Linked DNA regions of Homo sapiens. The protein of the gene in region 2 interacts with the protein of the main gene of each other region in a pairwise test. Each region holds a gene or a part of one and is shown on either strand. Other genes may lie near its edges. The genes, in order: SMC2 and GULP1.

What was found.
Region 1: the proteins of GULP1 (region 2) and SMC2 interact in a two-hybrid assay, tested with the Homo sapiens proteins (one large-scale study listed by BioGRID and IntAct).

Annotation. Positions count from the first base shown.
Region 1 is NC_000009.12:104,114,685-104,118,520, forward strand, and holds part of SMC2 (structural maintenance of chromosomes protein 2), read left to right. Parts: intron 1-6; coding exon 7-145; intron 146-1,515; coding exon 1,516-1,635; intron 1,636-3,486; coding exon 3,487-3,691; intron 3,692-3,836. UniProt on the Homo sapiens protein: Central component of the condensin complex, a complex required for conversion of interphase chromatin into mitotic-like condense chromosomes.
Region 2 is NC_000002.12:188,588,598-188,592,433, reverse strand, and holds part of GULP1 (PTB domain-containing engulfment adapter protein 1), read right to left. Parts: exon of another isoform or gene 3,825-3,836; intron 3,784-3,824; coding exon of another isoform or gene 3,721-3,783; exon of another isoform or gene 2,695-3,720; coding exon of another isoform or gene 2,684-2,694; intron 1-2,683. UniProt on the Homo sapiens protein: May function as an adapter protein. Required for efficient phagocytosis of apoptotic cells. Modulates cellular glycosphingolipid and cholesterol transport. May play a role in the internalization and endosomal trafficking of various LRP1 ligands, such as PSAP.

The DNA.
Region 1 (3,836 bases), on a different chromosome or scaffold from region 2:
TTTCAGGGATCCAGAGAAGAACTGGAATAGAAATTGTGTGAAAGGACTTGTGGCTTCTCTGATTAGTGTGAAAGACACTTCTGCAACCACAGCTTTAGAATTAGTGGCTGGAGAACGACTCTACAATGTTGTAGTAGACACAGAAGTAAGTTGATTTTAATTTTAAAAAATTTAAAATTTGGTTAGCTTGAAAAGTCATGTGCTGCTAAAAGAATTAAATACTTTGATGTTTTAAGGCTCTCCCCTAAGGTGACTTATTTATAGGGTAAAACTATTTGGTTCATAACTTTTTGATAACTATTCCAAAGGAGGTCTCATGCTTACTCAGAAACTCAGAATGCATATTACCAATCTTAAACTTTTGGGATCTCTTTGCTGTATAAGTTGAATTTAATTTGTAAAATAATCTGGGAATAAATGACCTGTTTTTGATGTCAGTCTTCCCATCAAGGTAACATTGAATTTATTTACATTTCTTCAGTTCTCACTTATTATCCTTCTGTAGAATGCTCATATTCTTTCCTGTAAATGCTACGTAGTCATTGTCAAATTTACTTCCTTGTTTTTTTTTTAATTTATTTTATATATATATTTAAAATGTACAAGAAGCCTGGGTATGGTGGCTCACACCTGTAATCCCAGCACTTTGGGAGGCTGAGGTGGGCAGATCATTTGAGCCCAGGAGCTCGAGACCAGCCTCAGCAACGTGGCAAAACCCCATCTCTACTGAAAATACAAAAGTTACCCAGGCGTAGTGGCGTGCGCCTGGAGTCCTAGCGACTCTGGAGGCTGAGGCACAAGAATTGCTTGAACTTGGGAAGTGGAGGTTGCGGTAAGCTGCGGTAAGCTGAGATTGCACCACTGCGCTCCTGCCTGGGCAACAGAGGAAGACTGTATCTCAAAAAAAAAAAGAAAAAAACAAACGTACAAGATGTTTTGATACATATACATAGTGAAATGATTATTGTAGTCAGACATATTAACATAGCCATTCACCTTCCATAGTTACCTTTTTTGTGTGTGACAGCACCTAAAATTTACTCTTAGCAAATTTTCAGTATATAGTATTAATTATAGTCCTCATGCTATACATTACATCTCTGAATAGGTAGATTTATTTATCCTACCCAACTGCAAATATGTACCCTTTGACCTATGACCTACTTCTACCCATTTTCTTTCACTCCTCATCCCTGATAACCACTATCCTACTCTTTTTATTTGTTCAGCTTTTTTTTTTAAAAGATTCCATGTACAAGTGAGGTCATACAGTTTTTTATTTTTTCTTCGTCTGATTATGTCACTTAGCATCATGTCCTCTGGGTTTATTCATGTTGTCCCAAATGGCAGCATCTCCTTTTTCAAGTTCAAATGATGTTCCATTGCATATGTAATTATAACTTGATTGGGATAAATGGCACTAAACATTCATTTATTATAGACTACTAAACTTGCATTCTCTCAATTTTCTGTCATTTTTAACATGCGTTTTTTAAATTCAAATGTGTGTTGTAGGTTACTGGTAAAAAGCTACTAGAAAGGGGGGAACTGAAACGTCGATACACTATAATTCCACTCAATAAAATTTCAGCCAGATGTATTGCACCAGAAACTCTGAGAGTTGCTCAGAATCTTGTAAGTCTCATTTTGTCTTATTTATATGTTTAATCGTCATCTGTGGTTTTTTTAAGTTAGAAGACATTAATTTTGAGGGACATAATCATATGCAGAACCACAAAATTAAAATACAAAAAAATTGGGTTGGCTTGTGCAATTAGATGATAAGAGAATAGAGATGTTGGAAGACTTGAACTCCTTTTGATGCTTCACTTTGTGGTATTAGAATGTCCTTTTTAACCTTAAGTCACATGACTATCAATCAGGTGATGGTGAAAATTACACTCTTGATTCCTGAATGGTTAGAACTGAGCTTCTAGATACGTACCCCAAATTCTTCAAGTTTTTGTTTTTGTTTCTTTTTATGTCAGGCATACTAAAACTGCCCACAGTCACAGCCATTATGGAAGGCCTTCATTAGTATTGCAGTGATGCTTCTTTATTAGAGTTCTTCTAGATTGCTATTCAGCCTGTGCAGGTACATAGCAGGTGACCAGGATCCCATTCAACTGCTGACGTTGATCTAAAGTGACATGCTTGCTAGTAAGAAAATAGATTAGTACAAGGAAATACATTTAAAAGTTATTGTAGTTGTGTAATACTGTAAAAACATGAAGTCAGTCATAACATTCAGCTGTAATATCAGTTTTTTTATTGATCAGACATTCCAAGTACATCAGTTGAAAAGACATTTCTATGAAACTTAAAAATATACTTGTAACTAAGTGGATGTTGTTGTATCCTTAGTTACATTCAGAAGATTTCAATGCAAATGATTTCAAAATACAGTTGTGTTGATATGTATACTATCAGGAGAGGGAGGATGAGTGCTGAGTAATTGAAAGGTGATGTTTTTGGTTGGTACTTTCTTTACTTGAAAACTCACCATTAAGTCAAGAAGGCTCAGGAAGTTAATTCAGCCATACATCGAGTCCCAGCATTAGAAGGAAATTGGGATTTCAAGTAACAGCAAAAATACTTTGCCTCAAATCCTTTAGCCAAACCTATTTGATGGTAGCTGCCACATCAAAGAACAATACTGAACATGTGTTACATAGAGCTTCCTTCATTGTGACTGCCACTGCTGATACTAAGCTCTAAAAGAGATGCTTAGTTTTTCTTAAATGATGGGCAGAGGTAGCCTCTATAAACAAAGGCTGAGAAGAAGCATTGTGATCAAAATAGAGGACTGGGGATTTTTTAAATTACTTTTACTCTCAGTTATTGTGTTTTCATTTCTGTAACTGGCAGACGACTGCTCTAGCATGTTTCATTTGTATGAGAAAATATTTGTTGTGAAATCAAATTCCTGATTATTGAAACAACATTTTCATATAGTTGTGTTGATCTGGAAATTATAGGTTAAGCACTCCAAGTCCAACAACTGAAATTTTCCAAAATTCAAAACTATGACACCCAAAAAATGCTCATTGGAGTATTTTGGATTTAGAAAGTTCAACCACTGTAATACAAATATACCAAAATCTGAAAACAAACACTTCTGTTCTAAGCATTTAGGATAAAGGATACTCAATCTGTACTATAATTAAAGTTGTGTCCAGTCAACGTTGGTGAAGGACACTTAGAAACATGGTAATGGCTCCTTATTGATAGAAACTTTCATAATGCTCCATACTAGCTATTAATAAATATTTTACTTAGCAATAAATCTTTCAGTATTTAAACCTGCAGTTTTTTTTTCCTGAAACTTTGAGTTTTACATAGCTTTTTAGAAAATTCAGAAAGAGTTTTAATGCTAGGTAAGTATTATTTAAGTTTCTATTACAGCAGTTTTTACTGGTTTATAAAATCATATCTGAAAGGAAAAGTAGTAGTATGTACTGTGGCATATCTGTTGTTGTCCCACAGGTTGGCCCTGACAACGTTCATGTGGCTCTTTCCTTGGTTGAATATAAACCAGAACTTCAGAAAGCAATGGAGTTTGTCTTTGGAACAACATTTGTTTGTGACAATATGGATAATGCCAAAAAAGTGGCCTTTGATAAGAGGATAATGACTAGAACTGTAACTCTCGGAGGTGATGTGTTTGATCCTCATGGGACATTGAGTGGAGGTAAGTTTTATATCCTTTTCTCCTCACAATTCTTTGTGGTAAATAGGAAGATGCCTTTTTTAAGTACATTTTTAGCCCAACTACCCACTTCTTCAGGAAACATGTTAACTTCTCATTTGTGTGTTTGCCAGTGCCACCTACCTCC
Region 2 (3,836 bases):
ATACTTAGAAAAATAAATACTTTAAACTAAAATACTGTAAGTAAACTTTTCTTTAAAATTATTTTATTTGGATATCTGAAGATCTGTATATTATGTCATCTTCTGGTATATTACAAATGGTAAATAGATGATACATTGATAGATAATGACAGATAGAAAGAGAGTTACATGTGGAAATGTTTGATACCATACGGTACTTTTAAATTTTATCAGTTCATTCTGCTAGTAAACCAGTATCACTTCAATTACCCTGAAAATACTATTTGTCAATGTGTTATCAATATTGGAAAAGCAGAATAGCAGCCAAAGTAAAACAGAGGTCAATCACTATTTTAATAATAAAGTGTTAGTATATGACTTACAATAATATCTATCTCCATATTGACTTTTTAAGGATCCTTACATATTATAAGGTTTCTTGATTTTCTTTCTTCCTCAGATAAAATTTCCCACACCTGTTGAGCTTCAAACTTCTTAATAAAAATGAGACTTTATTTACTTATGTAGTGATGGGAATTATCATAAGCTAACGTCACACAAAAGAATGATTAAATAATTAAAGTATTATTCACCATATGCTTTTTATACGAAAGATTTTGATGAATTTTCTTATTTTGAAATAGAAAAGCATATCAAGGAAAGAAAAATCACTACATTTTGAGGTATGTCTTTTTTTCTATCTATACATTTTTAAAAATGATTTTAATGATAATATGAATATATATTTATGCCATATAATTTTCTTATGTAAGTAATATATTACATATAGTTTTCTATCTTCCTCTTTTCATCTTTGCAGACCCTGATTATTTTAAATTCCCACAAAACTAATTTATTATGACTATATAAAATGCTATTAATTTTTATGATTGTTTCCATCGTAAAAATGCATTTTACGTTGATTTGAAAAAAAATCGTTCAGCATTTTAAAATTATGAATAATGTTGACTAGGTATTTTTATTCGCAGAGATTGAACACATTCATACTTATTTTTTCATCAGAATAGATTGCTTTAAAGTTTTGATATCAAACAGAAATAAAAGTATTAATAACAAGCTACCCTTTAAAGAGACTGCTAGGCCATAGTTACCTCTGAACTAACTCTGGACTGCCAACAATTTACAGTGCTTGTTTTATCACACTTTCAGTTGTATTGATTGATTATTAGTTTAAAAAATAATCTGCTAGATTAAAATAGCATTACAGTTCTTTATTTGATTTATATGTTTACTTTGATTAGACAGAACATGTCTACATATGTGTAAGCCACTTGTGGTCTTCTTTTGTGAACTAGTGCTTTTTTATTTATCTGTTGATTCTTTAGTTTCCTAGCCATTTGTCTAATTGCTTTAATTATGTATATGTAATGTATTTATATATTTTTAGACAGTAAATTTTAAAAAATTGGATACTATATGTCCGTATTTTTCTTTTCCTTATAAAATTTTCTTTTCAATTCAAAAGTCTGATGAATATTCAATAATATTTTAAATATTTTAAAATGTTGATTACTTCTGAAATTTATCTCGGCATTTGCTGTAAGTTTCAGCAGTACATTGATCTTCTCCCAGAGTACTAGCTAGCTGACTTAACACCACTCATACATGATTCTTTCATCATTCATGAACTTGCCATGCTTGTTTTTTAATGTATTAAATTATTATAGCTCACATGTTACAGTGTGGGCTATCAATACTATTCCACTTATTTTCCTGTTGGTGACATGTACTGGACAGTTTAAATTATGTCAAATCAAATAGCTACATTATTGATTTCAAATAGATGTTTAATTTTCTAACTGCTTATACTGAAATATGGTCTAACATTTCTGCATAAATGCTTACATGCATGAGATGTTTCTGTGATTTCAAACTTAATAATTCGATTCTCTTAAAAATAGCTTAGTCACAATACTCTGTAAATGAAAGATGAAAACTAAATGTCTCACTAGGCTTATTAACTCAATATGGTGTTCACAACCCATTGTACTATATTAAGTTTTTATATGATATGCAAAGATAGCTAAATGTCTGCATTAGATTCATTAGGCTAGCACGATTAATAATAAAAGCCATCATAGACTTTAGATGAAGAAAATATTATTTTACTTTTGTTAAAGTGACCTTGCAAGTAAATATTGGACTAAAAGAAACAATCATGGCCAAGTATGGTGGCTCATGCCTGTGGTCCAAGCACTTTGGGAGGTCTAAGTGGGTAGATCGCTTGAGCCCAGCAGTTCAAGCCCAGTCTGGACAACATGATGAAACCCTGTTTTTAACAAAAAATACAAAAATTAGCCACGCGTGGTAGTGCACACTTGTAGTCTCAGCTACTCAGGAAGCTGAGGAGGGAAGATTGCTTGAGCCCGGGCGGTGGAGGTTGCAGTGAGCCAAGATCATGCCACTGCACTCCAGCTTGGGTAGGGCGATAGAGTGAGACTCTGCCTCAAAAAAAAAAAGAAAAGAAAGGAAACAATGAAGTGAACAATGCAATAGTGACTAAGTCACTGAAAAATAATCTTAAAATGTGGTTTATAAAACCTCTCTAAACATAACTAATTATCAGATATACCCATATGAAGCTGTTGTTTGAATTTTTATTAAATAAGGCATGCAAATTTTAAGGTTTCAGCTTTAAAAATTTGTAAGTTGTTTAAAATTATTATAAAAATAATATACCAACCATCTCTGGCGCTACCCACCATGAAAGCAGTAAAGAATTTAAAAAGACATTAAGAAAATATTAGAAACAGCAAAAGCAAAAACACCACGGTTTAACATTGAGTGTCACCATCACTCAATCATCCCAATACATTGTGTCTCACACTTGGTTTCAACAAAATCTGGAAATAGAGGCTTATCCTTAAAACTCCATAATTTTTTTTCCAATTTTGGGAAAATCTAAAAAATTTTTAGAGAAGTACTCTGTATGACCTGTGCAACCCTTGAGAATAAATACTACCACATAAATATTTCTTTGTTACTACAAAAGCATTAGTACCAGATAGTACATGTCCAATGGGTAAAACTAATGTAAAAGAAAAGGAATTGATTTCATATGAAATACAGCATTCTTGCTAAATTATCATGCGCCATTTGAAAGTTTCATAGCGTTTGAAATATAGAAAAGAACTAGGAAATCTGTGCCATCAGATAGAATACATGTTGAAATCAATAGAAATTTGATAAGGTGGTTTTAGCTTTAACCAAATAAGATCATCCGTCCTGTATTGGTGTTGCAATTTGGCTTTCATTTAATTTATAATTTATTGAATTCATAATTTTATAAAAACCATAAGGACAAGTTGTTTATAACATTTTTGTCAATATTTAAAAATTGTAAGTTAATACTAAGGATCTAAAACAATTTTTATGTAAAAGGGGATTAAGAATCATTCAACTTGAGAAACACTGTTTTAATAGATTCTTTGAAAACCTCAAGACATATGTTAAGTAATTCAACTTTTAAATTCAGGCATGTTATTACATCTAGAACAATAATGAATTCATGTACTACCTAGAAAATAAGATAGCTACACAGCTGCAGTCAAAAATGAGTAAAAGGGCATTTAAATTAACTTTCTAAGAAGGATTGCAATTATCAGTGATAGATCAGTGTTCACCCATAATTGTTTTTTCTAGGAAGTGAGGCATAGAGAATTAATGTATTAACCCAAGACTAATAAACAAAAATACCTCCTTCTCCTTACTTTAGTGTCTTCATTGTCTCTTCTCAATCAGCTTCATATAATTGGTGTCTGTCTGGATTCTACCATATATAAACTTTTTGATGAAAAATAGGATATAATAACTTCACCAAAATGTAAAGGGCAAAT